Homo sapiens: one gene and its partners. The protein of the gene in region 2 interacts with the protein of the main gene of each other region in a biochemical or structural test. Each region holds a gene or a part of one and is shown on either strand. Other genes may lie near its edges. The genes, in order: GNA12, ARAF, NELFCD and IRF7.

Region 1 (7,121 bases), on a different chromosome or scaffold from region 2:
GGTGTGTGCTCAGTGGCCGCTGGCCCCAGCCTAATGAAATTCATTTCATTTAATCCGCAAGTCCAAGTTTGTGTTAATCTTGAGTGGTGTAGGTTTTTCACACCAAGGAGAGTCCCGAGAGCCCACTTTGGATCCACTCGTGTTTCTAGATCGTGTGACCGCAGCAGCCGTTGAGAGGACTCTGGGCTCGTCTTGGCAGGCACAGTGCCTCTTTATAAACCCACCAAGCGGTTAATTTCATGTGGACATCTCAGTTTCTGCCACATGCATTTTCTCTAAAGAAATGACTGAATTCTCTTAGTGTTGAAAATGCATGGGATTGTAAACCTGGCCCTTTTAATGAGCTGCTGCTGTAAGACTTGAGGAGTCCGTCGCAAACGATCGTCCCGTGGGCTGCGTGCCCAATCAGCAGGTGCATTGTCCAGTCTCTGTTGGTGAACCGCAGTGCACCAAACCTCAGGGACAGCAAGAGTGCGGATGTGAGTGACAGCGTTCTGGATCACACAGGGTTGCTCTGTGTCCCCTTCTTCCCTCCCCTCCAGCCCCCATTAGAGAGCTTGTGGCACAGTCCCTGGCACCTTACAGTTCAGTGGCAGCTTTCCCACGGACCCCCTGGGCTGTTTCTCGAGATGAGGCCGCCCTGACATGAAACTAGATTTGACTCCTCTCCTCCGCCACTCATGCAAGATGACCGAGAGTCACAGATAAGTTTTCCTGCATTCCAAGTAGTGATACAAATGCTGTGATGAGTTAAATGAGCCATCCTCATTCAGTCATCGTGGAGAAAGCAGCAGTGAGTGTTTGCTGTGTTGTGAAGTGCAGCTGGGGGACTGATTGCAGACTCGAGGGGTGTTTAGACTCACACCGAGGGAAACGTCCCTCCTGTTTTCTGCTTCCCATCGAGCTTGTCCTGATTGTGCCCTCTGTGGTGCTTTTCCCCTTGCGTCCGTACTATCTGGGCGGAGCACGTGTGTCCAGGGCTTTGTGTCCTGTGGTGATAAGAGCACTGGCTGGGGCATCTGTGCCACTGTGACTCTCCATGCCTGACCCAGCTAGAACCCTGCAGGAGAACTGCCTCTGCTTCCTTCGTGCCTGGTGCCACCACCTGCCTAGAAACGGGCAAGGGTGGCTTGGGCTGTGAGCTGCTGCTACTCTCAGCTCCCTGGGGGAGCCCGTGGCCACAGGAGAGGGAGGGACAGTATGCTGATGCTTCTTGGGCTTGCGTGGCACCTCCCGAGGCCCAGGGGAGGGCAGGAGAGCAGGAGGAGGCAGGAGAGAGAGGCGCTGAGGAAGGAACTTGTCGTAAATCAGGGAGTGAGTGCACCCAACGGCTTCTCCCAGCTGCTTCCTGTCAGGGTGTGGAAGGAGGCATGATGTGCAGAGGACCGGGGGGACTTGGCACAGCCACGGGAAGGCGGCTGCCCCACCGGCCTCACGCTGGCTTCCCACATCACGGGGGCTTGGCGAGGAAGGGAGAGAGCAGGCACGAGAGGTCAGTCGTGCCGGGCCCTTGGGGTACGTTCACCCTGGCACTCCCGATGCCTTCCCTACTGCAGAGCTGGGCCTCTGCCTGGGGCTCTAGAGAGCCGGTGGTCACGAGGTGCACGTGCTCGCCCCGTCCTGCCACAGAGGAGGAGGATGTGTGCTCGCTCAACACAGGCAGTGCTGGGATGGGGAGACGTGTGTTTCTGTCCCCTCAAACAAAACACTCACTTTGAAAACATCCAGAGGCCTTCGTTCTAAAGTAGGAAGGTGGGCTCCTCCCTGAAGGAGCTTCCTCTCTGCTTTCTCCCCTCAGTCTGTCTGGGACAGAGGAGGAAGAGATAGACTGAGCAGGTGCTGGCCGCCTTTCTCCATCCCTTACAACGCCACGAGCTTCAGCGCCATCACGTAGTCCATTCTGATGGCCTTCTCTCCTTAAAATTCTCCTGCGTCAGCTCGCCACATGTGTATGACCTTGCCCCTGTACATTTCCATGAGAACACAGAAAGTGACTGCTCTTCCCACAAGCCCTGATGTCAGGGCAGCCTGGAAGCCTTGACCCCGCCTGCTGGTGTCTGTCTTTAGAGCAGGGTTCAAAGTGGAATCTTATAGAAAGTGGTATAATTGGTTTTTAATACGCTACCTTTGAAGGGACTCATTGCGTGCCTGTTCATATGCGGGCTGCTCTGTGGTCGGTGGTTGCGCTCTCCCGGCTCCTCCCGTGCCCCGTGTGTGCCTCGCATTTGGCGGCTCAGCGCTTCCTGAAACGGGGTCCTGGGTGATTCCGCAGGGCCCTTCGCACTATGGAACACGTCTCAGATTGTATCGATGATTGGTCCAGGCAGGAGAAGACTGGCCATCATTCCACCACAACAATCCAAATGGAAGATTCCCCTGTGTTTGCTACTATAAATCAGGTCATAAAAATGTGGGAAGGAATAATGGACTCTTTCTAGAAACTGGAAGATGTTTTGCTAGATGCTCCTTTTCGTCAGGATGTTTTGTCTTTAAGGACAATGTCTTGGGTCCCTTAGGCCATCTTCGACAGAAGCAAGACTGTACCCAGGAGCCAAAATCTAAAATCCTATTCTAGCCTGTCCTTTGCTGGCCGCATGGCCAGGAGTGGGCCAGCCTTCATGTCTGGAAAGAGAGTCCCCCATCAGAGGGGCCTGCATCGCACCACACACCAAAACCCAGCAGCGAAAATTGAAAAACAGCCAGAATTTGAACCTTGGGGTTGGAGCTAAAGAACCTGCATTAAACATTTTCTTTAATGGTAGTTTTTTTATTTTAGAAAACACACGGACACTCTCTGCCTTTTTCCTTTGCTTTCCCATTCACACGGAGGCGAAATGCCACTGCTCTTACCCTGTTCAGTTCTTGTATTTGCCACATCAGGATTCCTCAGTCCAGACTGAGCTGTGAATATTCTTCCTTCCTGACAGGGGGAGTCGGTGAAGTACTTCCTGGACAACTTGGACCGGATCGGCCAGCTGGTGAGTAAGCACGCCCGCCCGAAGAAGCTGGGCTCCAGGGTTAGAAAACGTGTCCAGAGACCAAAGCAGTCCACGTTGTGAGGACTTTGGCTGGACTGACAGGCCGAGCTTGTTCTGTCACATTACCACGAATAGTACTGTAATGGCACGCTCTCACTTGGATCTGGGCCCCGTCTCAGTGGGGAGGGGAGGAAACTGCCTTTGCCCAGATCACCATAAAGGAGACAGACAGAGGAGTTCATGAGTGAAAGGAGGACTTCCTTTATCTCATGGAAAATTCAAACATACTCAAAAACAAATAGTCTAATGAAACCCCAGGCATGGCAGTTATCACTGATTACCAGTCTTGTTTCAGCAGCCCTCCCCCGGCCTCCGGGAGCAAATGCAGAGAATATTTTAGAGTGTACCTCAAAAAGACAAGACGAAAAATGACAACCGCAGTACCGTATGGCTCCTGAAAAATTGGCAGTAATTCCGTAATGTCAACCTAGTCAGTTTAGAGATTTTCCCTGTTGTCTCATTAATGTTTTCATGTTGATTTTGCTTTGTTTTAGCAGAGTTTGAATCAACAACCTAATAAGGTCATGCATTGCCATTGGTCAGGATCACTTAAGTGTTAATCTGTATGTCTCTCCTTTTTTTCTTTCAACTTGTTTATTGGAGTAACTGGATTATTTATCCTGTAGGGTTTCTTACCATGTGGACTTTGCTCTTCCACCCCTGCAGTGTTATTGAAGATGTTTCTCTGTCCCCTGCACACCCCGTGGGTGGTAGTCAGACCTCTAGATCGAGGCATGATCATGTCCGTGTTTGGTGTTTTGGCAAGAAGCTGCCTGAGTGGTGTGTGCACTCATCACGGGAGGTGTTTTGTTGGTTTTTTGTTCTGTTTTGTTTTTCGATTTTTTGAGACAGGGTCTCACTCTGTCACCCAGGCTGGAGTACAGTGGCACGATCGTAACTCATTGTAGCCTCAACCTCCTAGGTTCAAATGATCCTCCTGTCTCGGCCTCCCAAGTAGCTGGGACTATAGCATGAGGCACCACGCCCAGCTAATGTTTTTACTTCTTGTAAATATGGGGTTTTACTATGTTGCCCAGGCTGTTCTTGAACTTCTGGGCTCAAGGTATTCCTCCCACTTCCCAAAGCACCAGGATTATAGGTGTGAGCCACCGTGCCTGGCCTGGAGGATTATTAATAGTGCAAAGTCAAAGTGAGTGAAGAGTATGCTTGCCTGTGTGTCGCTAAAGACTTAAAGAATTGTCTAAGAATAACATTAAATGTATTGCAGATTGAATTTACATCACATTCAAAACCTAAATTAATTCACAGTAAGGTTTTGGAAGCTATAAGCTTTAGGAGTTAGAAAAATAAAAAGGTATCTCTGGTATGGAAACAAAAAAGATGGTAAATTTCCTCTGGAGAAGAAAATGGATGTGGTTTTGCGCTGGGCCTGCCCACGAGTGTTCTGAGCATTCGTCCTCAGACTGGTGAGCCTCCGTTCGTTTTGAAATGAAGTATTTGATTCTTTCTGTTTCACGGCCAGTTGATAATGTTATAAATGAAATTTGCTTTTGGTTTCTGGTTCAACCTGTTGCAAAAGTCAGTCTCTTTCCTTCTTATCTTTTTGCCATCTTTTTGTTTCTATTTTCTCTGTTCTTTCTTCCTCCCCCTAAATTTCTGCCTCATCCTGTATTTTACAGAATTACTTTCCTAGTAAGCAAGATATCCTGCTGGCTAGGAAAGCCACCAAGGGAATTGTGGAGCATGACTTCGTTATTAAGAAGATCCCCTTTAAGATGGTGGATGTGGGCGGCCAGCGGTCCCAGCGCCAGAAGTGGTTCCAGTGCTTCGACGGGATCACGTCCATCCTGTTCATGGTCTCCTCCAGCGAGTACGACCAGGTCCTCATGGAGGACAGGCGCACCAACCGGCTGGTGGAGTCCATGAACATCTTCGAGACCATCGTCAACAACAAGCTCTTCTTCAACGTCTCCATCATTCTCTTCCTCAACAAGATGGACCTCCTGGTGGAGAAGGTGAAGACCGTGAGCATCAAGAAGCACTTCCCGGACTTCAGGGGCGACCCGCACAGGCTGGAGGACGTCCAGCGCTACCTGGTCCAGTGCTTCGACAGGAAGAGACGGAACCGCAGCAAGCCACTCTTCCACCACTTCACCACCGCCATCGACACCGAGAACGTCCGCTTCGTGTTCCATGCTGTGAAAGACACCATCCTGCAGGAGAACCTGAAGGACATCATGCTGCAGTGAGCGAGGAAGCCCCGGGGTTTGTCGTCGTTGAGCAGCCCCCACGGCTGTCGGTCAGACTCTTGGGTGTGTGTTGTCTGTGTGGTCCTTGAGTGGGTTTCTCGGATCCGTGCCCTGGAATACCTGGCTCAGGAATGCTGTCAGACCAGCCAGCCAGCGAGCTCTAGGCAAAAGGACATGGAAACTGTCACGTTAGCTACTGAATCCTGGGGGCGAGTGAAACTACTGAAAATCCGAGTGATGATGTTGTGAATACGGAACACCTAATCACACAGCTTGCTTTGCTTTTACAGAAACGTTCCTCTTTTTCTGACGCAGTTTAATTGAGGACCGTGTTGTGTGTGTATGTGTGTACACACGCTCTGTCTTTAATGACAGAAACACAAAAACCAGCTGGCCTTGCAGACGGCTTTTCTAACTCACAAGTCTTCCCTGAGACAGACTAACCTGAAAGCTTTGCCTAACAGTAGCTTGTAGAGATCCAGTGCACGCCGATGCTGCTAAACTCAGTGCCTGAGCCCGGCCCTGCAGCCCCAGCCGCAGTGTCTGAAGGCCACCTCCCAAAGGGAGCACGTTGCCTTTTCAAACTCCCGTGCCGATTTCCTAAGAGCCCCTAGTCCAAGCCTCTCAGATGAAGCTGAGGAGCCGTGCCTAGGATCCCTTCCCAGCTCTGAGGACGGGCTGCAGAGCTCTGCAGGTGTGGATTCACCTTACGCCCCTACAGCAGGCTCAGCCCTTCCCACCCTGCCCCATGCCCAGCAGCACAACACGGAGTGAGACAGGATGCCCACGGTGACTGCCGCTCCGTCCGTGCACACACAGCGGTGCTCTTCTCCCCTTAGCCACCCACTGCCCAACCCAACGGCAAAGACACAGAAACCAGGTCCCCTTGCAGACGGCTCTCCCATCTTCCTGCAAGTCATCTGCTCACACACAGTTGGCAGCACATAGCGTTTCCTTCTTTCAGAAACATTCCTCTTCTGGGGCTTCAGAAAGCTGGCAAGGCCACTAGCAGAGCTTTTGTTAATGCCCCAGCTGCTTGGCGAGCTAACAGCTGACCTTTCGGGAAGCCCACAGACGCTGGAGGAATCTTGAGTTTCTCCAAACTGCCGCTCCACCAGTGCCTTTGGACAGCCGTGCCTGTTCGCCGCTCTCCCTAAGTCTGATTCTCATCGAGGCCCCTCGCTTCTATGACTGTGCTTGCAGAAGAGTAAACACTCTCGGATGCCGCTGTCCTGGGGGAGCCCGCGGGAGCCTGTGAATGTTGATACGAGCTGGCCAGTCCTGGGCCCAGCTCACTTGTCCAGCTACCTGCCAGGTGGCTTTCACTGTGTTTAAAATACATTGCATTCCAAGCTGGTCCCCTCTGTGTATCACTCTACTGAGAAATCCTGCCTAGTGTGTTTTGGGATGTGTCCTAGCATTTACAAGAAAATGAAAAGCGTCCTCTTAATTGGCACCCGAATGTTGCTGTGGCTCAGTCACATATCCCAGGGCCCTCGTCCCGAGGCCGTGCTGCCCCGAGCCCCGAGCCCCTCTGCAGCTCACCCTTGGCTTGTTTTCCGCAAACCCGGTAAACGCAAGCCCTTGGGGCAGATGCAGAAGCAGAAGAGGGAGGGGAAACCTGCCTCTGGGTCACCCTGTTAGCACAGCGTTCTCATCGGGAGACAGCATGGAACTCTCTCTCGCAGTGCTCGAGGCTGTGTGTCAGTGTTTGCTGGGCTTGTGGCTCCTTTTTTGGCTGGATAAAGAAGTCGCTGTTTTTGTACTGCTTCTGTGGCTCTTCACAGACCTCACGGATGTGACCGGAGATGAGTGCCGATGACCACGTTTTAAAGGAGAAAGAGAGCTCCTGGTGGGGCCCTCGGGGTGGTCT
Region 2 (7,121 bases):
CAGCCTCATGGCGAAACACACACACACACACACACACACACACACACACACCCAACAGTCCCAGCCTCATGGCGAAACACACATACACACACACCCCCAACAGTCCCAGCCTCATGGTGAAACACACACACACACACACACACACACACACACTATACCTCTGAGCTTTCATATTCACATCTGCCTCCATCTCAGTCTTCCTCTATCCCAGAGTCACCCACCCAAGGTGTCCAGCCCCCTACCCAGCCCACCTGGGGGAAGAGGGGCCGCTCCTCCCGCTGGAACTTGAGGCAGTCAGACAGCAGGCGCCGCATGGCCTTGGGGCAGTTGCTGGAGATTTTGCTGAGGTCCGGGGACAGATAGCCACGGCCCACCATAAAGATAATCTGGGGGCAGACGGGGGCAGGAAAGGGGTGATCTGGGGTCAGGGGCTGGGAGGCCCAAGGAATTTTGTATTGAGGGACTTGGAAGGTTCATTTTTAGCGAGCTGGGGTACTGTCAGTATCAAGGCCCAGAGGATTCTCTGTCCTTGAGGACTTGGGAGGATTCTCTGCTTTCAGAACAGAGGGATTTAAATTTGGGGTTGTCAAGGATTGTAGGTATCTGGGGCTCAGAGGATTATAGGCCCACGGGTTTCTAGGAGGCTTAGGGACCTGGAAAGTACTGAGTCTCGGGAAAACATGGAGTTCTGGGTCTGGGGGAGCTTGTACTTCTGTGGGGGTCTGGGGCCTAGAGGGTTCTAGGTATCCCGGCCCTGGGGCCTGCTAGATACCCAAGGCCTAGGTGACTGTGGGTGTCCATGACTATTCCAGAAGCACAAAGGGGTTCTGTTTCTGGGGAAAAATGGGATGCTGGGAGAAATGAGATCTGGGCTTTGAGGATCTGGGGGATTTTGAGTACCCAGAGCAGACGACTATAGGCGTCTAGGGATACAGAGGGCTTTGGGGTATTTGGGGGCCTCAGGGGATTCTAGGTATAGAGATTCGGGGCATTTTGGACTTCAAAGATTTTTGTCCCAGAGGGCTGTGGATGTGAGAAGAGGGAAGTTGGGGTAGGGGAGACCCAGAGAATTTATTGTAAGTGTCTGGAGCCCAAGGGATTCTGGGAGTCCTTATCCTAGAAAATTTTAGGTTTCTGGGGAAAGTGTGGCATTTATCAGTGCAAAGGAGGGGATGTGGGGTATGGATGCCTGAGGGGATCCCTCAGCCCAGGGAACTGTGGGTAAGGTGTGGGGCTCACCTGGTCACGGCAGCCAATGTGGCTGTAAGGCAGTGAGCCAGTCATAAGCTCGTAGAGCACAACCCCGTAGGCATAGACGTCTGACTGGAAGCTGTAGGGGTTCGGGTCCTGCATACGGATCACCTCAGCTGCCTACAACAGGCCAGACCAGGCAGGGGGACCACGGAGGTCAGCAAATGGCTGGTCCACAGTCCCAGATCCCACTGGCCACACAGGGTACAACTCAGAGCCACCCACACGAGGTGGGACATGAGGAGTCCAGACACCCACATCTGGCACAGGCATCCCCGTCCCCACTTGGCCCCACACACCCCAATCCCGGAGCCCACGTCCCCATGTGCCCCCCATCCAGCCTGGCCCAACTCACCATCCACAGCACAGATCCTGAGGGCTGCTCCAAGGGCTGGGCCCCGCTCCATCGAGTCTTCACTGTGGCCAAGCCAAAGTCACCGATCTTCACCGTGAGCCCCTCATGTAGGAAGATGTCCGCCAGGGTCAAGGACCACTACAGGGACTCCTAATAGCCATGCCTCTCACCCTGCCTGGGAGGTTCCCATTGGTGCCCCTATACCACTCATCCCTCTGATCCTGACCAGGAGCCCCTTAATATCACGCAAACTATCCACAACCTTGACGTGGGCAGGGAACGCCTGCTAATGCCCCCCACACTCAGCCCCGCTGTGACTCCTGAACAGGAAGCCCCTCGGAGGGCATCCGAACCCACTATGCCTCTGATGTTGACCATAATGCCCTCCACAACTGTCAGACATCAGACTCTAACCAGAGTCCCCAAGAATAGTACCTGAACCAGCCACACCTCTGACTTCTAAGAGACTGCCATTAAAGCCCCCTGGCTGGCCACAGCTCTGCCACCTGGCAAGGAGCTCTGGGACACATGCCCCTCCCTTGTAATTCCCAGAACCCCCACAAGAGGCATCCTTCTAAGCCCTTGACACCCCCACTCAACCCCAGCCCAGGGACAGATAGATACTGTTAGACTTGAGATCTCGGTGGATGATGTTCTTGGCATGGAGGTAGCTGTGGGGGTGGAGGCAGGTGGCGGATTGGCTGGGGGTTACCTCATTTCCCCCACCCTTTCCCCCCACCCCTCCCCAGGCTGGGAGGCTCACTCCATGCCCTGGGCAGTCTGCCGGGCCACGTCGATGAGCTGGACCATGTCGAAGCGTGTGTCGGCCACATGCAGGTGATGGTAGAGGCTGGAGCCCTCACACCACTGTGTGATGATGGCAAATCCCGGCCGGGTCATGAAGCCCATAAACAGCAAGATGTTGACATGTCGCGTCTTCCTGCAGGCAGGGAGGGCAGTGTCAGAGGTGGGGAGGAAAAATAGCAACTGTCACTTACCGAGCATCAGGAGTGGCACTGTTCTTTACCTTCCTCGGTCATTTATTTTCACCCTGTCTTTTGGGGCACTCAGGACCAAAGCATTGCCAGATTCCATGAATTTGTGAGATGTGTTTACTGGGCTATGATTCTGTGCTGTGGGCTCATATGTGGAGCTTCCCCATCCGAGTCTCCCAACAAAAGCAGGAGGGAGGAATTGCTGCCCCTCCCCCTCCCTGCCTACAGCAGCATTTCTAATCATTAACATCCCCCACCCCTCTGACTCTGACCATTACCTGGGTCTGTGACCATCTCACAGATGAGAAAGCAGAATGCCAACCTTCCTCACTGATGTATCAATATAATATGGATAGATGCAGGATTAAAACATTGGTGATATATGATGATTAGAGCCTGTTCAGCAGCATGAGAAGCTTAGAGGTAAAGAGCTTGGAGTCTGGACTCATGTTCAAATCTAGGCCTCACCAGGTACTCAAGGTACAACCTTGGGAAAGACATTTAACCTCTCTGGGCCTCATGTTCCTCAACTGTAAAACTGATCATTGCATTAGCTACCTTATTCTCTGTAACATAATTGTGCCCATCTGACACAGAGGAAAAGCCAATGCCAACATCCCCAGGGTTGGTAGACGCTATCCAGTACTACCTGTAGTATATAGGTATACAGTACTATGCTACATAGTAACTATAGCAGCAAAAAGGAGACACCTGGCTTTCTTAGCGTGACTAGATGAATACTGTATTGATTACATATTACAGCAATTATAATAATTAAGCAATGATTAGATTATGGTGATGATGATAATATTGTTTAAATCAAGGTATTAGAATTAATGAATAACAAGAACCAACACTATAAACAGAACATTACCATTGTAGCCCAAGCAGAGGGGAAGGAAAGATGGAAGCCTTCCTGGCAATGCAGTAACAAGAATGGTGGCCCACACACAGACCCAGTTCGCAGCAGGCAAATGAGAAGACCCACATTTTGGAGGCAGAACCATTCATTAATAACCCAAACACAAACAACTGCATGATCACAGGTCCTCTAAACATACTCATTTCCCAGAGGGGAAAGGGACACCCTTCAGAGAGAAACAACTTCTGATGATGGTTTAACAACACAAACACAGGTGATGTCCAGGAAGCACTCCAAGCATGGCCTTTTCCCAGAGAGATGCCAAGGCCGGGCCTGCCACCCCCATCCACGCACACATGCCACCTCACCTGAGCACCTGCATCTCATTCTTGAAAGCCTGGGCCTGCTCAGCTGTGGGCTGGGACACCTTGAGCACCTTCACGGCCACATCGCCATGCCACCGCCCTCGAAACACGGTGCCAAACGAGCCCGTCCCGATCCTCTTCAGCAGCTGCACCTCACTGGGTGGTACCTCCCAGTAATAGCCTGAGTCCCGGTACCCCAGGTTCTTCTGTGGGCCAGATGGGTGGCATCTAAGAGGCCTGCCCACATCCCTCATCCCACGTCACTCAGCCTTGGTGGCCCCAAAAGGATCCCCCTCGAGCATACCACTTTCTTCTTGTCATCGGCCAAGGACTTCCGCTCGCGCTGCTCTGCTGGTGACTTGGAATGTGGGGACTTCCTCCCCGAGGACACGCTGGCTGGGCTGGGGCTCCCCCGGGGGGTTCCATCACTACCTCCTCTACTACCGGCAGCTGCAGTTGCAGAGAGGATGTGAGTGGAGGTAAGTGGGGCAGCGGGGGTCAGGGTGCAGGCACAGGGGACTCACCATCAGTGCTGAAACTCTGGCCAGTGAGCTAGAAGAAGAGGGACAGGAGTCAAAAAGAGGGCATGGAGGCCAACAGGGATGGCTCTACCCTCTGCCCTGTGGTCCCCGGCATTGTCCCCCACAGCACCAACCTGGATGAGGTTGGAGTCCATGGGGGCCGTGGTGCTGACCATATGGACGTTGGGAGTGGACGTGGAGCGGATGCGCTGTAGGGGGGCATTGGCTGGGGCAGGGAAGGGGAAGTGCTCCGGGTCACAGTGCTGGGTGCGGGGGCTGCCAGGGGAAAGGCTGTGAAATCACTGCCAGGAATCAGAGAACCGAGAAAGCCCCCCACCCCACCCCCAGCCATAAACATGCATTTGGCTCACACAGAGCGAATGTCCACTGGCAGTACTATTATTCATTGCTTCAAGAAACATTTATTGAGTGCCTGCTGTGTGCCAGATACCATTCTAGGTGGTGGAGATAAAACTGTAAAACAAAATAACAGTTCTTGCCCTGGTGGGGCTGAAATAAAAAACAAATATATAATATGCCTGATGGTGATAGGTGCAATAAAGAAAAATAGTAAAGCAAAATAAGGAGACACAAAGTGTTCCTAGAAAGTGTCAGGAAAGGTTTCTCTGAGGAGGAGATGACAATGGAGTAAACGCCTAAAGGCAGGATAGCAGGCCACACAGATAGTGGGGAAAGGGTAATGTATCATATTTTATAATTATATATTATAATTACATGTACTTTTCAAATGTTATATAATATGTATCATCTATATAAAAATGGCAATGTTTTAAAATATACATATTACCATATTGTTATACATACATGTTATACATATGATATATGCTAAACATATTGTAAAGTTACAAAAATATGTTAATGTTCCCTTCACTATCCTGAAATGAAACTCAAAGGTAATTAATGCACATACACTCATAATTTAAAATAATACCCTAACTTTATTTTATGTATCATATAAACATGTATGATGTTCTACATTATATAAAATTATGTAATACAACATGATACAATAACATAAATATACCATAAAATATGCACATCATAAAATATATATTAGAGCAATAATATATTTTAATATAGCTATAGTTTTATATAATATTTAACATAAAAAAGCAATAAAAGGGAAGTAATTTATGATAAAATAATACGTATTTCAAAATGGAAAGGCTTGAGTATGATTATACTAGAATTAGCAAAGTAGTTAGATGCTTATAAATATATTTATAATTAATAACAAAAAAATTGATTATTTACACTGTACCAGATCCTGTTCTAGGCACTGAACATGTCTTAACTCATTTAAGCCTCACCAGAACCTTTATATGGTAGAAAGTATCATCATCCCCTCTTTACAGATGAGAAAACTGAGGCCCAGAGAAATGAGGTGACTTGCCCAAGGTCCCAGTTTCATGCCCTTACTCACACTTGTAGGTGCTCAATAAATGTTTGTCAAGTAAACAAATGAATAAAGTATGGCTCGTGGTCTACAAGAGCCCCAAGATCTTTTTCTCCCCCAGCAGCTCTTCAGCTAAGGCATCCCTACCTGGGACCCTGGGGGGTTAGCAACTCATTCAGGGGGCGGTTCGAGGGAGCCTCATGCTGTCTGGAGCCTCCGGACAAATCCTGGACACTGTGGTAGAACCTTGAGGGCATGAAGGGTATAAAGCAAGGGGACACGGGTCAGCTGTCTGTAAGGGCCTCGTGGCTGGGCCTCTGTGCTCCCCATCCCCCCACCCACCCCAGGCTGGGCTCACTGTTGGCGGTTGGTACTCATGTCAACACAGACTGTGGGGACCTTGGAGGAACAATGCTGGTGGAACTTGTAGCCACAGGTTTGGCAACGGAAGCCATGGAACAGAAACTTAAGGCAGAAGTCACAGAACGCCAGGCTGAAGAAGGTCTTCCGTACCTGATGCCACAGAGCAGGGAAGTTTGAGACCTGGTCAAGGACACCCCCAACCATGGTCCACCCCCACCGTCCACCCTGCACTCACAAAATTGTGCATGGTCAGCGGGACATCTTCAAGGACCTCGACAATGAGCTCCTCGCCATCCAGGGGAGCAATGGCTGTGTCCCAGGCAGTGACCGTCTTTCGTCTGCAGGGGGCATGGAAAGGAATGAGTGGGAGGTTGGGTAGGGGCCATGGGGAGGCAGGGAACCCCCACAAGTCCCTCCAAGCCTGCTACCCACAGGGTCATGTCTGGCATGTTTAATTCTCATCACAGCAACTCTAGAAATTAGTCACTATCCTTGCCCCAACTTTACAGATGGGGAAACAGGCTCAGAGGGATAAAGTGACTGGCCCTGGGCCACAAGGGTAATGAGAGGCATGACGGTGTGAAGAGTCCATGCTCTGAAACGGAAGGGGAGAAGCAAATGAAACTAAACAACTACATCTTAGAAGCGCTAAGCCAGCCCCTGAAAAGGGGGCTGAGGAGGCACTGAAACAACAAATAAAGTGCAGTGTGTGAACTGCATCATAAATTAAGGAAACCCACGAGAGAGGAATAAATAAAGTCAGCAAGACCCAACTCAGCAGACAGAGAATGGGGAAAATGAGGAAGAAGAGACCTGATGAAGTCATGACATCGTGAAAGGACAAAATAGATGAAATCTGGGCAGAAGTGATGGACCAGGGTGAGGACTTGGGGGCCAGGGGAGAATGAGTTGCTGACCTTACAGGCCAATAAACCAATGAAGTAACAAAACAAAAGATGGATGAACTCATAGATTACTTGAACTACAGTAGT
Region 3 (7,424 bases), on a different chromosome or scaffold from region 2:
CTTTGTCCTCCAGATTGAAGTCACAAGTCTCAGCTTAAACATAATTTCCCTGGAAAGGACTTCTTGACCTCTTTCTGAGGTCGCTGCATTTTTTAAAAAAAATTGTTAGAGATAGCTTCTCTTTTCTCCTTTTTTGCCATTAGCACCAGATGAATTGTGTCTCTGATTCAGCTATATCCCAGCACCTGACACCTAGTAGGCACTCAGTAAGTATTTCCTCAATGGATTAAGTGAAACCAACTTCTAATTTTCATAAAAATTCTCCACCAGAATTCTTCTTTTTCTTCTTTTTTTTTGGTGGGGGTCAGGGGACAGAGTCTTGCTCTGTCACCCAGGCTGGAGTACAGTGGTGTGATCTCACTTCACTGCAACCTCTGCCTCCCAAGTTCAAGCGATTCTCCTGCCTCAGCCTCCCAAGTAGCTGGGACTACAGGCACCCGCCACCACACCTGGCTAATTTTTGTATTTTTAGAAGAGACGGGGTTTCACCATGTTGGCCAGGCTGGTCTCAAACTCCTGACCTCAAGTGATCTGCCTGTGTTGGCCTCCCAAAGTGCTGGGATTATAGGTATGAGCCACCGCACCCGGCCCAGAATTCTTCTTAAACAGGAAAATGACTTTAGAACTTAAATGACTTTAGGAGTATTTAAGCAATGCAAGCTAATCTGGACAATCTAGACAAGGCTTTGGAAAAAACAACAGATCCACAATATCTCAGGAGGCAAGACCTATAGACCCAACTACTTTTTTTTTTTTTTTTTTTTTTGAGACAGAGTTTCGCTCTGTCACCCAGGCTGGAGTGCAGTGGCATGATCTCGGCTCACTGCAAGCTCCACCTCCCAGGTTCACACTATTCTCCTGCCTCAGCCTCCTGAGTAGCTGGGACTACAGGCGCCTGCCACCATGCCCGGCTAATTTTTTTGTATTTTTAGTAGAGACGGGGTTTCACCGTGTTAGCCAGGATGGTCTCGATCTCCTGACCTCGTGATCCACCCGCCTCGGCCTCCCAAAGTGCTGGGATTACGGGCCTGAGCCACTGCGCCCGGCTGACCCAATTACTTTTAAATCATTGTGACTTATAGGCTGAATGTAATGGTTTCATTACGGGTTGTTAATCCATTTAACAATAAATGGATTAACCAACCTGTTGGTTGAAGGAGAAGTGAGCTGAATAATCCCCAATTCCGTAGGCACAATTAGTTATACATACATTAATTGGTCCGCTTTCAATTCTGGCACTATTTTTTAAAAAATCTAAGAGGAGAGGTAGGAGGAGTTTAACAGCCATCTATTCTTTCCAACATTTTGAGAAAGCAAGTGAAAATGAACCCTGAAACAAGCCAACAGCAGGGGCACTCATTAACTTAATACACTTTAATCTTGTGAATAGAAGCTGGAGCTGGATCCTTTGAATCGGAGCTGCAGACTTCCACCTCCAACCACCTGCAGGACATCTCCGCATGGGTGTTCTGTTGGCACCTCTAACTCAGCACAACCCAATGAACTCATTATCATCCCATGGAGAAACCTGCCCTCCTCCTGGGTTCCCTGTCTCAGCCATGGGCCATCCCCAGGCACACAAGCTGGGGGTCACAGCAGCATCTTCCCTGCCCCTGTTCCTGGCCCCCATCTCCCACCCCCAAGGCTGTTGTATCCTCTGGACTTGACCCCAACTTCACAGCAGTTAGCCACAGCTCCTTCTCAGCAACCCCCTCCATTAATGCTCACGGAAGCTTCTTAATTTACATTCTCACCTTCTCACTTCCTTCTGTAAGGCCCCCTCAGCTAGGAGAAATGCCTTTGAAAATTCAGATATGTCCTTTCACCCGCTCAGAGCAAGAAAAAAAAAATCCAAACGTTTCATCTTCCTCATAATGATGCATACTTGCTGAGCACCTACCATGTGCAAGCTCTCTGCTCAGTGCTTGGCATACCTCATTACATTCAATCCTTAGAGATGGCCCTCAGTTAATACAGACCTAACTCCCTCCCAAGATCTGGCCCTCCCTGCCTTGCCCACCTCATCTAGATTTCTCCTTGGCCTGCCAGGTGCCGCTCTCAGTGGCCTTTCTGTTCCAAGTACGCATGCCTGGCCTTTGCCCTGGCAGTTCTGCTCTCTGGAAATGCTCTTGCCTGGGTCTTAGCTAGCTTGCCCCTTTCATGACATGACTCAGTTCAAATGTAAGCTGCTCAGCAGCCATCTCTGATCTCCCCAAGAAGATTCTATTATCACAGAATACTAGCACTGATCACCTTCTGTCTTTATCTTATTTGTTCCCCCCACCCCCTCCCCCCATTCAGCTCCTTCAGTAGAATGTAGGCTCTACCCGGACAAGGATCAGGTCCAACTTGTTCACCGAGCTCCAGGGAGCAGCGCAGTGCTGGGCACTTAGGGAACACTCAATAAACATTTGTTGAATAAATGAAGACATATTCCCTGATAAGTTCTCCAAAAGTAGTCACTATTATCAATCTTCTGGAGCTCTTTTCTCTAATACTCTTTCCTTACTGACATGGGCATTACCTTTCTTTTTTTTCTTTATAGACAGGGTCTCACTTTGTCACACAGGCTGAAATGCAATGGCACGACCATAGCAAACTGTAACCTCAAACTCCTGGGCTGAAGCAATCCTCCTGCCTCAGCCTCCCGAGCAGCTAGGACTACAGGCGTGCATCACCATACCTGGCTGGGGGCGGGGGAAGGGGGGGGGCGGTGTCTCGCTATGTTGCCCAGGTTGGTCTCAAACTCTTGCCTCAAGCAATCCTCCCACCTTGGCCTCCCAAAGTGCTGGGATTACAGGTGTGAGCCGCGGCGCTCAGCCACGGGCGTTACCTTTCAAAGCATCCAGATTTTATGGCGTTAATCTCCCTGTTTAAAATTTTCTGTGATTTGGACACAAAGATGGGAACAACAGACATGGGGTATTCCAAAAGGCAGAAGGTGTGGAGGGGGGTAAAGGCTGAAAAAGTTGCCGAAAGGATTAGAAGCATCACGCAATATACCAATGTAACAAACCTGCACACGCACCGAATCTAAAATTAAAACAAAACAAAAACACAACAACCAAACAAAAACCTTTCCGTGATCATCAGGAGGCTGTCATATTCTCACCCCCTACTTCACGCTGGGAATCGAGCTGCGGGCTTTACAACAGCGTCAGCTGCTCCCTTTGGCAACGACCAGAGAGGTCCTTTCTCCAGAGATTTTTGTCAGCTCTGGGCACTTTTGCTTTGTGGGCCTATCTTCCACTTTATAAAAAATTAAAAATGCTACTTTCCACTGCATTCAGTACTTTTTCTTCTCTTTTCTTTTTTCTTTTCTTTTCTTTCTTTCTTCTTTCTTTCTTTTTCTTTTTCTTTTTTTTTTTTTTTTTGACACAGTTTCACTCTGTTGCCTAGGCTGGAGTGCGGTGGTGTGATCTTGGCTCACTGCAACCTCCACCTCCTGGGTTCAAGCGGTTCTCGTGACTCAGCCTCTTGAGTAGCTGAGACTACAGGCGCCCGCCACCATGCCCAGCTAATTTTTGTGTTATTAGTAGAGAAGGGGTTTTACCATGTTGACCAGGCTGGTCTCGAACTCCTGACCTCAGGTGATCCGCCCGCCTCGGCCTCCCAAAGTGTTGGGATTACAGGCGTGAGCCACCGTGCCCTGCCCTTTTTATGTATGTATTTATTTATTTGAGATAGGGTCTCGCTCTGTCGCTCAGGCTGGAGTGCAATGGTGCGATCTTGGCTCACTGCAACCTCCGCCTCCCGGGTTCAAGCGATTCTCCTGCCTCAGTCACCCGAGTACCTGGGATTACAGGCGCATGCCACCACGCCCGGCTAATTTTTGTATTTTGAGCAGAGACGGGGTTTCACCATGTTGGCCAGACTGGCCTCGAACTCCTGACCTCAAGTGATCCGTCAGCCTCGGTCTCCCAAAGTGCTGGGATTACAGGCGTGAGCCCCCACGCCCGGTCGCGTTTAGTACTTTTTACCAAAACTAAAAGAAATTAAAACACTTTCGTGGGTCCTGGACACTTCCGGAAGGATTTGTTTCCAGCTGCCAGATGAGGAAACTGGGGCTCGCAGAGCCGGCGCCGCAGGGGAGGGGCTGTGCACGAATCCAGTGGGAAACCTCTCTCCGGAGCTAAGCCCCTGGTCCACCCGGGCATCGCTCCGGGATCGACTGGGGGCGTTCCTTCCGCCGGTCCCCTTTGTTCCCAGTGCCGAGCCCGCGGCCCTGCCCTTCCTCCAGGCCCCGCCCCTTCTTCCAGGCCCCGCCTCCCGCCCGGGCCGAGGCGCGCGGCCGCGCGTGCGCCCGCCCGCCCGTCCCCGCCTCGCGCATGCGCCGCGCTCGCTCGCGGGAGGGCATGGCGGGGGCCGTGCCGGGCGCCATCATGGACGAGGACTACTACGGGAGCGCGGCCGAGTGGGGCGACGAGGCTGACGGCGGCCAGGTGAGGCGGGGCACTGGGCGCACCCTAGAGAGAATCGTTCGTCTCCGCCGCCGGCGGGCCGGCCCCACTCCCGGAGAGGCCGCGCGGCGCGAGGCTGCGGGCGTGCGGGGGGTGTGCGCGCGCACGGCCCGCGCGGTCACCGTGTGGTTCAAGCACAGCCCGCCCCGCCCCCGCCCGCCCGGGGTCCCGCGGCGCGGCCGCCGGGGTCCCCGCCTCCTCGCCTGCAGGACCTTGGGGTGGGGGTGAGGCGCCGGAGGCTCTGGCGCGGGGCGGCCCGAGGCCCCCAGTACCCCCTCGCTCCGGCCAGGCCCGGCGCCGGCCCTGCGACCCCCGCGGCGGGCGGGACACCAACGCTAAGGTGGAGGGTTGGGTCCGGAGCTCACAGACTTTTAAACAAAAATAAAGTGGAAAAACTTCACAGCAGCATCATGAGGAAAAAGTAGAACTTAGGGCATTCCTACATGTGCTTTACTGTTTTATAAACTGTACTCTTCAGCACCTTGGGCTGATTTCATCTGTTTTTGGGCAAACTGATGGAAAGGATTTTCGGGCCTTGACCTTCCAGGGTTTGGGGTGGAAGCCCAGGAGGGATCACTGTTCCACCCTGAGGACAGGGACTGCAGAGCCAGGGCAGGTAGCTCTAGTCTGGACAGTGTGTCCCCACCTTACTCTAAAGACCCAACTGAGGCGCATGATTGAAATGTAGCTTCTCACGTCCCTCCCCTGGAGACGGCCCAACAGTTGGTCTGGACGGGAGCCTGGGAACTTGCATTTTTTTTTTTTTTTTTTTTTTTTTTTTTTTTTGTGGTGGAGTTTCGCTCTTGTTGCCCAGGCTGGAGTGTAATGGCGCCATCGCGGCTCACTGCAACGTCTGCCTCTCGGATTCAAGCGATTCTCCTGCCTCAGCCTCCCGAATAGCTGGGATTACAGGCACCCACCACCATGCCCAGCTAATTTTTAAAATTTTGAGTAGAGAGGGGGTTTCACCTTGTTGGCCAGGCTGGTCTCAAACTCTTGACCTCAGGTGATCCACCCACCTCTGCCTCCCAAAGTACTGGGATTACAGGCGTGAGCCACTGCTCGTGGCCCAGGAACTTGCATTTTTAACAACAATCAAGATTGGGGATGTCTGGTGCATTTTGAAGTGGTATTATAAGGGAATAAAGGATGAAGTGGGGCTTACGTTGATAAACATGGGTGGTGGTGTGATGGCGGCTTCGGAGCCATGGTCTAAAATGCCAAGGCGGGCGATGTGTTTCTGGAACTGAAAGAAGCCCTGTGATGTTAGCTGCCTGGTGGAAGCAGTGGCAGGAGGTCAGTAGGGAGCAGGTTCTGAAGATCCTTGGAGAGCTGCTGAATGGTATGGCTTGTTCAGGAGTTTGGGGCAGGGAGTGACACGAGTAGATTTGCATGTTGGATCATTTCACAGTGTTGGAGGCTTAGGGTGGAGTGGATAGAGTCAGACTTAGCTAACTGAGAGCTTGGGCCATGTGTGTCATGCGTTATCCCCTTCCACACACAGGATTTTGAGTTGGGTGTTACCCTACTTATCTGGTAAGTGTAGAAAATGAGACGAAAAGACTTACTGACCTGCCCAAGGTCATGAAACTAATAAAGGAAGGAGAGGGGACCCAAACCCACATCCTTTGCCTCCGTTGCCACTTCGTCAAATTGCTGACTACCAAAGTGGTCCAGATGAGAAGGTGTGAATTAGCTTAGTGGTAGGTTGGTGTTTGGGGCATCTAGTATATCACCTTGAGCCTTTTTTTCTTTTTTTTTTTTTTTGAGACAGAGTCTCGCTTAGCTGCTCAGGCTGGAGTGCAGTGGCTTGATCTCAGCTCGCTGCAACTGCCATCTCCTGGGTTCAAGCAATTCTCCCGTCTCAGCCTCCTGAGTAGCTGGGATTACAGGCATCCGCCATCATGTCCGGCTAATTTTTGTATTTTAGTAGAGACAGTGTTTCACCACGTTGGCCAGGCTAGTCTTGAACTCCTGACCTCAGGTGATCCGCCTGCCCCGGCCTCCCAAAATGCTAGGATTACAGGCGTGAGCCACCGCACCCGGCCTTTTTTTTTTTTTTTTTTCTTTGAGACGGAGTCTCACTCTGTCACCCAGGCTGGAGTGCAGTGGTGCCATCTTGGCTCACTGCAACCTCCACCTCCTGGGTTCAAGTGATTCTCCAAGTAGCTGGAATTACAGGCCGGTGCCACCACACCCGGCTAATTTTTGTATTTTTAGTAGAGATGTGGTTTCACCATGTTGGCCAGGCTGGTCTCGAACTCCTGGCCTCAAGTAATCTGCCCGCCTCCGCCTCTCAAAGTGCTGAGATTACAGGTGTGAGCTACCGTGCCCGGCCTCACCTTGAGGCTTTGAGTCATAAAGTGTTAGAACTGGGGCATATAAGGGCCATCTAATCAGTACCTTCACTTTATAGACCAAGCACGTGAGTTATTTGCCCAAGTTTGTGCAGTCAGACCTAGACCCCACTGATGGGAGATTGGGGAGTCTCATGTTTGGGGAATTTTAATCATGATCCTAATTTGGCCCACTGACACCAGTGGGCTCTCATGGATGAGGGGGGTGGACCAGACGTTCATTTCATGTTTATTCTGTGACTCTGCTTGGAAGAGGTACAGAAAGTTAGGAAAGGTGTTAGGAGGGTGGCAAGAACTGGATTTTAAAAGATAGTTGGTGACCCAAATTCTGTTCGCCTGATGCCATGTTACATAGTGGGAGGTAGGAAGATGTGTAAGGAGGCCACCGTGATGTTCAGTCTGGATGGTGGAAACTAAGAGCTGCAGACATGCAAATAGATGAGTCCTGCTACAGATTGCAAATGGGGAGTGGTGAGAGGTCAGAACGGACAGGGGAAGTGGGAAGGGCACGCTCTTGCTAGAGCTGGGGCGTTTTTTCCTGAAGGAGATGGGAATCTTTAAGCAGGAGAGAGACGTCAGTTTTGTGGCTTACAAAGATCACTGTGGC
Region 4 (8,077 bases), on a different chromosome or scaffold from region 2:
ACACAGGGACGGCCAGGATCAGGAGAGGAAGGGCGGGGTCGGGGTCAGGGGGTGGGGCCGATTTCGGTCGTGATTTTGAAACAAATGCAGACTCTCCTTGTAAACCAACCCTTCCCATCTTGAGCGGTGAGGGAGCAAACCCTGAACACACAGGGAGGAGCGTGGGCCCCAGAGCCAGGCGGTCTCAGGGGCCTGGGGAGGTGGGCTGGGGCCCTGGAGCTCTTAAGGGATGCTGACATCTCTGCCCTGCTCACAGTCACCACTGGGCCCACACAGGCTGTCTGCAAACCTTCCTGGCACCAAGGCACCTGGGGCCACCAAACAGTACATGGGAGGCAGAAATGCAGACCCCGGGAGCCCCCACTTCCTAAATGTTTGCTTACCCGTCAAGACAAGCCTTGTGCAAATGGGACTCAGTATCTTTGGGCCACTGGACTCATTCATTAGTAAGGGACCCACAGGGGTGTTACTGATTGTGATGCTGGGACAAGGGACTGTCCTAGGCAGGCAGGGACGCCCGGCCACCAGCGGGACTGGGCCCCTCCTCAGCCAACCCTGCCCTTGATGGGGAGTCAGAGGGGCCAGGCTGGGGCCATCCACCCCAGCCCCACGACGTGCCCTCCCTTCCGCCATCCCTGAAGCCATCTCCCCTCGTCCTGCGTCCCGGACCCATCTACGCTGAGGACGGAGACCGCGGCATCAACCAGCCCATCATCTACAGCATCTTTAGGGGTGAGTGGGGCCCAGCCCTCAACAATGCCCTGTACCCCCTCTGTCCCTGTCTCCATCCCCACCTTGGGCAGAGCTGGCTGGGTCCCTGGGCCTCAGGGGGCCGGGGCTGAGCACTTCCATCATCCTCCCAGGAAACGTGAATGGTACATTCATCATCCACCCAGACTCGGGCAACCTCACCGTGGCCAGGAGTGTCCCCAGCCCCATGACCTTCCTTCTGCTGGTGAAGGTGAGGTGGGCACCTGCATGGGGGGCAGGGCAGAGGGGGAAGGGTGGAAGGTAGGGCGGGGGGTCAGGGCTGGGGGGCCGGGGCAGGGCCCCCGCCAAGTCTGCACCTGCCTTTCCTGAGCCCCAGCCTTCAGCGCCAGCTCCACCTTCAACCCCACTAGTCACTGCTGCCTCCCCCGCCTCCAGGGCCAACAGGCCGACCTTGCCCGCTACTCAGTGACCCAGGTCACCGTGGAGGCTGTGGCTGCGGCCGGGAGCCCGCCCCGCTTCCCCCAGAGACTGTATCGTGGCACCGTGGCGCGTGGCGCTGGAGCGGGCGTTGTGGTCAAGGATGCAGCTGCCCCTTCTCAGCCTCTGAGGATCCAGGCTCAGGACCCGGAGTTCTCGGTAGAGAGTGCATCCAAGGCCTCCCCTCTGTGGGTGGGTCAGGGCTGTACGTGGGAGGCAGCCTGGCCGGGGACTCAATGAGACCCTGTCCAGGACCTCAACTCGGCCATCACATATCGAATTACCAACCACTCACACTTCCGGATGGAGGGAGAGGTTGTGCTGACCACCACCACACTGGCACAGGCGGGAGCCTTCTACGCAGAGGTGCGGGGCAGGGCAGGCGGGCATCTCCAAGGGTGTGGGGCTTAAAGATGTGTCTAGGAGGGACAAGCCCCTTCCTGCCCCAGGTTGAGGCCCACAACACGGTGACCTCTGGCACCGCAACCACAGTCATTGAGATACAAGTTTCCGAACAGGAGCCCCCCTCCACAGGTAAGCCCCCCTCCACAGGTGAGCCCCCAGGGTTCTCCAAATAAGCCCCTTCGGTGGCTCCTTTCCCGCGGTAGGTGTGCAAGGGGCGGGCAGAGGCAAGCCCAAGCACTGTTCCCGGCCCCCAGATGTCCCCCCATCCCCAGAGGCTGGAGGAACAACTGGGCCCTGGACCAGCACCACTTCCGAGGTCCCCAGACCCCCTGAGCCCTCCCAGGGACCCTCCACGACCAGCTCTGGGGGAGGCACAGGCCCTCATCCACCCTCTGGCACAACTCTGAGGCCACCAACCTCGTCCACACCCGGGGGGCCCCCGGGTGCAGAAAACAGCACCTCCCACCAACCAGCCACTCCCGGTGGGGACACAGCACAGACCCCAAAGCCAGGAACCTCTCAGCCGATGCCCCCCGGTGTGGGAACCAGCACCTCCCACCAACCAGCCACACCCAGTGGGGGCACAGCACAGACCCCAGAGCCAGGAACCTCTCAGCCGATGCCCCCCAGTATGGGAACCAGCACCTCCCACCAACCAGCCACACCCGGTGGGGGCACAGCACAGACCCCAGAGGCAGGAACCTCTCAGCCGATGCCCCCCGGTATGGGAACCAGCACCTCCCACCAACCAACCACACCCGGTGGGGGCACAGCACAGACCCCAGAGCCAGGAACCTCTCAGCCGATGCCCCTCAGCAAGAGCACCCCATCTTCAGGTAGCACCCACTCTGTTGCCTTCCCTCCCTGACTCCGGTCATTGGCTGGTATGGGAAACGCTGTAGGAAGGGTCCACCCCAGGCTGACCTGGCCTGACCATGAAATCCCAAAGAGGAGTCTGTTTGGGACTGACAGACACAGACAGGCCCAAGGCCCCCAGTGAGGTAACCTGTGATGTGTGTAGGACAGAGGCCAGATGTGGGGTCCAGCGAATCCCACGATTCCCACGGCTGCCGCTCACCCTGCAAGTCCCTGCACCTCTTGTGAGCTCCTGTGAGCAGCTTGGCCTCCCGGGGGGGAGGGGGTGGGCAGGGTCTCGATGGGACACACAGGCCCCTTGAGCCAGGGTCAGCAGAGCCTGAGATTTGGGAGACAGCCCAGGCCTGGGTGGAACCCAAGTGTCCCAAGCCTGGCACAGGTTGGCATGGGAAATGCCTGGGGCACTCAACAGTGCGGGGATGATGACGTTTTCCACTGCGATGCCAGGTGGCGGCCCCTCGGAGGACAAGCGCTTCTCGGTGGTGGATATGGCGGCCCTGGGCGGGGTGCTGGGTGCGCTGCTGCTGCTGGCTCTCCTTGGCCTCGCCGTCCTTGTCCACAAGCACTATGGCCCCCGGCTCAAGTGCTGCTGTGGCAAAGCTCCGGTGAGGCCCAGGATGGAGAACAGGGCAGGCGACCAGGCAGGAAGTGGGGGACGGGGGACAGGAGAGGGGAGGGCAGAGGGACAGATGTGGAGACGGAGGGGTGTCCAGCGTGGAATGAGGGTGTGCAGGGCCAAGGCTGCAGAGACCCAGGGACCCCGCTGACGCCTCGACTCCCGCCTGCAGGAGCCCCAGCCCCAAGGCTTTGACAACCAGGCGTTCCTCCCTGACCACAAGGCCAACTGGGCGCCCGTCCCCAGCCCCACGCACGACCCCAAGCCCGCGGAGGCACCGATGCCCGCAGAGCCCGCACCCCCCGGCCCTGCCTCCCCAGGCGGTGCCCCTGAGCCCCCCGCAGCGGCCCGAGCTGGCGGAAGCCCCACGGCGGTGAGGTCCATCCTGACCAAGGAGCGGCGGCCGGAGGGCGGGTACAAGGCTGTCTGGTTTGGCGAGGACATCGGGACGGAGGCAGACGTGGTCGTTCTCAACGCGCCCACCCTGGACGTGGATGGCGCCAGTGACTCCGGCAGCGGCGATGAGGGCGAGGGCGCGGGGAGGGGTGGGGGTCCCTACGATGCGCCCGGTGGTGATGACTCCTACATCTAAGTGGCCCCTCCACCCTCTCCCCCAGCCGCACGGGCACTGGAGGTCTCGCTCCCCCAGCCTCCGACCCGAGGCAGAATAAAGCAAGGCTCCCGAAACCCAGGCCATGGCGTGGGGCAGGCGCGCGGGTCCATGGGGGTCCCATTCACTCAGTCCCCTGTCGTCATTAGCGCTTGAGCCCAGGTGTGCAGATGAGGCGGTGGGTCTGGCCACGCTGTCCCCACCCCAAGGCTGCAGCACTTCCCGTAAACCACCTGCAGTGCCCGCCGCCTTCCCGAGGCTCTGTGCCAGCTAGTCTGGGAAGTTCCTCTCCCGCTCTAACCACAGCCCGAGGGGGGCTCCCCTCCCCCGACCTGCACCGGAGATCTCAGGCACCCGGCTCATCTCAGACCTCCCGCTCCCGACCCTACACAGAGATTGCCTGGGGAGGCTGAGGAGCCGATGCAAACCCCCAAGGCGACGCACTTGGGAGCCGGTGGTCTCAAACACCTGCCGGGGGTCCTAGTCCCCTTCTGAAATCTACATGCTTGGGTTGGAGCGCAGCAGTAAACACCCTGCCCAGTGACCTGGACTGAGGCGCGCTGGGGGTGGGTGCGCCGTGTGGCCTGAGCAGGAGCCAGACCAGGAGGCCTAGGGGTGAGAGACACATTCCCCTCGCTGCTCCCAAAGCCAGAGCCCAGGCTGGGCGCCCATGCCCAGAACCATCAAGGGATCCCTTGCGGCTTGTCAGCACTTTCCCTAATGGAAATACACCATTAATTCCTTTCCAAATGTTTTAATTGTGAGAGTATCTGATATTCTTGACTGAACAATGTAAAAAACCCAAAGGGGGCTGCGCACGGCGGCTCTCGCCTAAATCCCAGCACTTTGGGAGGCCGAGGTGGGCAGATCACCTGAGGTCGGGAGTTCGACACCAGCCTGACCAACATAGAGAAACCCCGTCTCTACTAAAAATACAAAATTAGCCGGGCGTGGTGGTTCATGCCTGTAATCCCAGCTACTCGGGAGGCTTAGGTAGGAGAATCACTTGAACCCGGGAGGCGGAGGTTGTGGTGGGCCAAGATTGTGCCACCGCACTCCAGCCTGGGTAACAAAAGCGAAACTCCATCTCAAAAAAAGAAACGCAAACGGTGCAGCTGCCCCTTTTTCGAGGCACGTCCACCTCCCATTACCCACTTCCTTTTTTTTTTGAGACTGAGTCTTGCTCTGTCCCCTGGGCTGTAGTGGAGTGGCTCCATCTCGGCTCACTGCAGCCACTCCCAACGCCCTCCACTCCTCCCTACTCCGCGCTGGCCGGGGCGGGGTTCCGCTGGTCGCATCCAATAATAAGAACAGGCGGCGCGCGCCCTTCCCGGAAACTCCCGCCTGGCCACCATAAAAGCGCCGGCCCTCCGCTTCCCCGCGAGACGAAACTTCCCGTCCCGGCGGCTCTGGCACCCAGGTACTGGGGACCCCAGACCCACGCGGTGCAGGCCGGGAGCGAGAGCCTCCGTGGGGGCTCCGTGACCCCGGAGGGGTAGAGCCAAGAGCTGGGGGAGCCTGAGAGATGAGGGTCGGGCGGGGAGGGAGGCGGAGGCGGAGGCGGGGTTCCGCGGAGCTGAGAACCGGACGGGGTGGGATCGAGGAGGGTGCGAAGCGCCACTGTTTAGGTTTCGCTTTCCCGGGAGCCTGACCCGCCCCTGACGTCGCCTTTCCCGTCTCCGCAGGGTCCGGCCTGCGCCTTCCCGCCAGGCCTGGACACTGGTTCAACACCTGTGACTTCATGTGTGCGCGCCGGCCACACCTGCAGTCACACCTGTAGCCCCCTCTGCCAAGAGATCCATACCGAGGCAGCGTCGGTGGCTACAAGCCCTCAGTCCACACCTGTGGACACCTGTGACACCTGGCCACACGACCTGTGGCCGCGGCCTGGCGTCTGCTGCGACAGGAGCCCTTACCTCCCCTGTTATAACACCTGACCGCCACCTAACTGCCCCTGCAGAAGGAGCAATGGCCTTGGCTCCTGAGAGGTAAGAGCCCGGCCCACCCTCTCCAGATGCCAGTCCCCGAGCGCCCTGCAGCCGGCCCTGACTCTCCGCGGCCGGGCACCCGCAGGGCAGCCCCACGCGTGCTGTTCGGAGAGTGGCTCCTTGGAGAGATCAGCAGCGGCTGCTATGAGGGGCTGCAGTGGCTGGACGAGGCCCGCACCTGTTTCCGCGTGCCCTGGAAGCACTTCGCGCGCAAGGACCTGAGCGAGGCCGACGCGCGCATCTTCAAGGTGGGGACCCCAGCCCCGCCCCGCCCCGGGTGGGAGAGCCCGCCTAGGACCCCGCGGGCCCGGCACACGTGTTCTGTCCCCCTCTTCAGGCCTGGGCTGTGGCCCGCGGCAGGTGGCCGCCTAGCAGCAGGGGAGGTGGCCCGCCCCCCGAGGCTGAGACTGCGGAGCGCGCCGGCTGGAAAACCAACTTCCGCTGCGCACTGCGCAGCACGCGTCGCTTCGTGATGCTGCGGGATAACTCGGGGGACCCGGCCGACCCGCACAAGGTGTACGCGCTCAGCCGGGAGCTGTGCTGGCGAGGTGAGCGACGCCGGCTGCCAAGGGCGTTGGCATTCGTCCTGCTTGGGCAAAGGGGAACATTCTCTGGGTCAGATTTGTGGTTTTAGAAGCTGTTCTGGGAGAGGCTGCCAGCAGGCCCAGGACAGGTGGAGAGCCACATCCCCACCTCCTCAGGCCACAGCCTAAGGGTTCACAGCCAGGAAGCTGGTGGGGGCTACACCAGGCTCTCCTTGTATCTCTCACTCTGGTGTCGGGGCCTAACGCCTGCCCCATTCTCTCTCAGAAGGCCCAGGCACGGACCAGACTGAGGCAGAGGCCCCCGCAGCTGTCCCACCACCACAGGTACCCTTCTCTCTGCCTGCCTCTCCTCCTGCCAGGCCGCGGAGCTGCTTACGTTCACCCTGACTTTTCCCTGCAGGGTGGGCCCCCAGGGCCATTCCTGGCACACACACATGCTGGACTCCAAGCCCCAGGCCCCCTCCCTGCCCCAGCTGGTGACAAGGGGGACCTCCTGCTCCAGGCAGTGCAACAGAGCTGCCTGGCAGACCATCTGCTGACAGCGTCATGGGGGGCAGATCCAGTCCCAACCAAGGCTCCTGGAGAGGGACAAGAAGGGCTTCCCCTGACTGGGGCCTGTGCTGGAGGTGTGGGCGTGCCCGGGGAGGGGGGGAGCGCGGGAGGGGCCAGTGCACCTGGACGGACACTTTAGAAGGGGGCTGGGGATTGGGGAGCTGGAGAATTAGGAGGGGACCACCGTTCCCACTGTCCTCCCCTCCTCAGGCCCAGGGCTCCCTGCTGGGGAGCTGTACGGGTGGGCAGTAGAGACGACCCCCAGCCCCGGGCCCCAGCCCGCGGCACTAACGACAGGTGAGAGGGGTAGGGGTTGGGAGGCCTGGGGCACAGGGAGAGGCTAGGGATGAGGTGCCAGCACAGGATTCCCTTCCGGATGCAGGCGAGGCCGCGGCCCCAGAGTCCCCGCACCAGGCAGAGCCGTACCTGTCACCCTCCCCAAGCGCCTGCACCGCGGTGCAAGGTGAGTGCATCCCAGGAAGGGGCAGCCTGTCCCCGCCCACCCCCGTCACTCACGGCTTGTCCCCGCCCACCCATCACTCACATCCTGTCCCCGCCCACCCCCGTCACTCACATCCTGTCCCCGCCCACCCCCGTCACTCACAGCCTGTCCCCGCCCACCCCCGTCACTCACAGCTTGGTCTCCACACAGAGCCCAGCCCAGGGGCGCTGGACGTGACCATCATGTACAAGGGCCGCACGGTGCTGCAGAAGGTGGTGGGACACCCGAGCTGCACGTTCCTATACGGCCCCCCAGACCCAGCTGTCCGGGCCACAGACCCCCAGCAGGTAGCATTCCCCAGCCCTGCCGAGCTCCCGGACCAGAAGCAGCTGCGCTACACGGAGGAACTGCTGCGGCACGTGGCCCCTGGGTTGCACCTGGAGCTTCGGGGGCCACAGCTGTGGGCCCGGCGCATGGGCAAGTGCAAGGTGTACTGGGAGGTGGGCGGACCCCCAGGCTCCGCCAGCCCCTCCACCCCAGCCTGCCTGCTGCCTCGGAACTGTGACACCCCCATCTTCGACTTCAGAGTCTTCTTCCAAGGTCAGTGAGGCCCTTGCCTGGGGGGCTGTCTCCAGGGGTCCTTGGGAGCACCTGCCTGCCAGGTACTCAGCAGAGTCCCCTTCTTCAGAGCTGGTGGAATTCCGGGCACGGCAGCGCCGTGGCTCCCCACGCTATACCATCTACCTGGGCTTCGGGCAGGACCTGTCAGCTGGGAGGCCCAAGGAGAAGAGCCTGGTCCTGGTGAAGGTGAGACCAGAGCCTCAAGGAGGGGAGGCCATGTGCTCAGGCCCACTG

Evidence for each region.
Region 1: the proteins of ARAF (region 2) and GNA12 form a complex in vitro, tested with the Homo sapiens proteins (2 studies listed by BioGRID).
Region 3: the proteins of ARAF (region 2) and NELFCD form a complex in vitro, tested with the Homo sapiens proteins (one study listed by BioGRID).
Region 4: the proteins of ARAF (region 2) and IRF7 form a complex in vitro, tested with the Homo sapiens proteins (one study listed by BioGRID).

What each region holds. Positions count from the first base shown.
Region 1 is NC_000007.14:2,729,308-2,736,428, reverse strand, and holds part of GNA12 (guanine nucleotide-binding protein subunit alpha-12), read left to right. Parts: intron 1-2,746; exon of another isoform or gene 2,747-2,927; coding exon 2,928-2,978; exon of another isoform or gene 2,979-4,678; coding exon 4,679-5,248; 3' UTR 5,249-5,385; coding exon of another isoform or gene 5,386-5,408; 3' UTR 5,409-7,121. UniProt on the Homo sapiens protein: Guanine nucleotide-binding proteins (G proteins) are involved as modulators or transducers in various transmembrane signaling systems. Activates effector molecule RhoA by binding and activating RhoGEFs (ARHGEF12/LARG).
Region 2 is NC_000023.11:47,564,143-47,571,263, reverse strand, and holds part of ARAF (serine/threonine-protein kinase A-Raf), read right to left. Parts: intron 6,468-7,121; coding exon 6,365-6,467; intron 6,280-6,364; coding exon 6,125-6,279; intron 6,022-6,124; coding exon of another isoform or gene 6,013-6,021; coding exon 5,914-6,012; coding exon of another isoform or gene 5,910-5,913; exon of another isoform or gene 5,289-5,909; intron 4,626-5,288; coding exon 4,484-4,625; intron 4,381-4,483; coding exon 4,353-4,380; intron 4,279-4,352; coding exon 4,133-4,278; intron 4,035-4,132; coding exon 3,832-4,034; intron 2,547-3,831; coding exon 2,370-2,546; intron 2,278-2,369; coding exon 2,231-2,277; intron 1,726-2,230; coding exon 1,607-1,725; intron 1,372-1,606; coding exon 1,240-1,371; intron 387-1,239; coding exon 252-386; intron 1-251. UniProt on the Homo sapiens protein: Involved in the transduction of mitogenic signals from the cell membrane to the nucleus. May also regulate the TOR signaling cascade. Phosphorylates PFKFB2.
Region 3 is NC_000020.11:58,976,928-58,984,351, forward strand, and holds the start of NELFCD (negative elongation factor C/D), read left to right. Parts: upstream 1-4,382; coding exon 4,383-4,442; intron 4,443-7,424. UniProt on the Homo sapiens protein: Essential component of the NELF complex, a complex that negatively regulates the elongation of transcription by RNA polymerase II.
Region 4 is NC_000011.10:612,951-621,027, reverse strand, and holds the start of IRF7 (interferon regulatory factor 7), read left to right. Parts: upstream 1-5,077; 5' UTR 5,078-5,115; intron 5,116-5,380; 5' UTR 5,381-5,663; coding exon 5,664-5,683; exon of another isoform or gene 5,684-5,709; coding exon of another isoform or gene 5,710-5,768; coding exon 5,769-5,931; intron 5,932-6,020; coding exon 6,021-6,231; intron 6,232-6,493; coding exon 6,494-6,552; intron 6,553-6,628; coding exon 6,629-6,854; intron 6,855-6,990; coding exon 6,991-7,077; intron 7,078-7,162; coding exon 7,163-7,243; intron 7,244-7,432; coding exon 7,433-7,822; intron 7,823-7,910; coding exon 7,911-8,029; intron 8,030-8,077. Other genes in the region: CDHR5 (cadherin-related family member 5 isoform 1 precursor), read left to right, coding at 642-732, 864-961, 1,147-1,347, 1,441-1,554, 1,638-1,722, 1,848-2,429, 2,917-3,074, 3,258-3,677.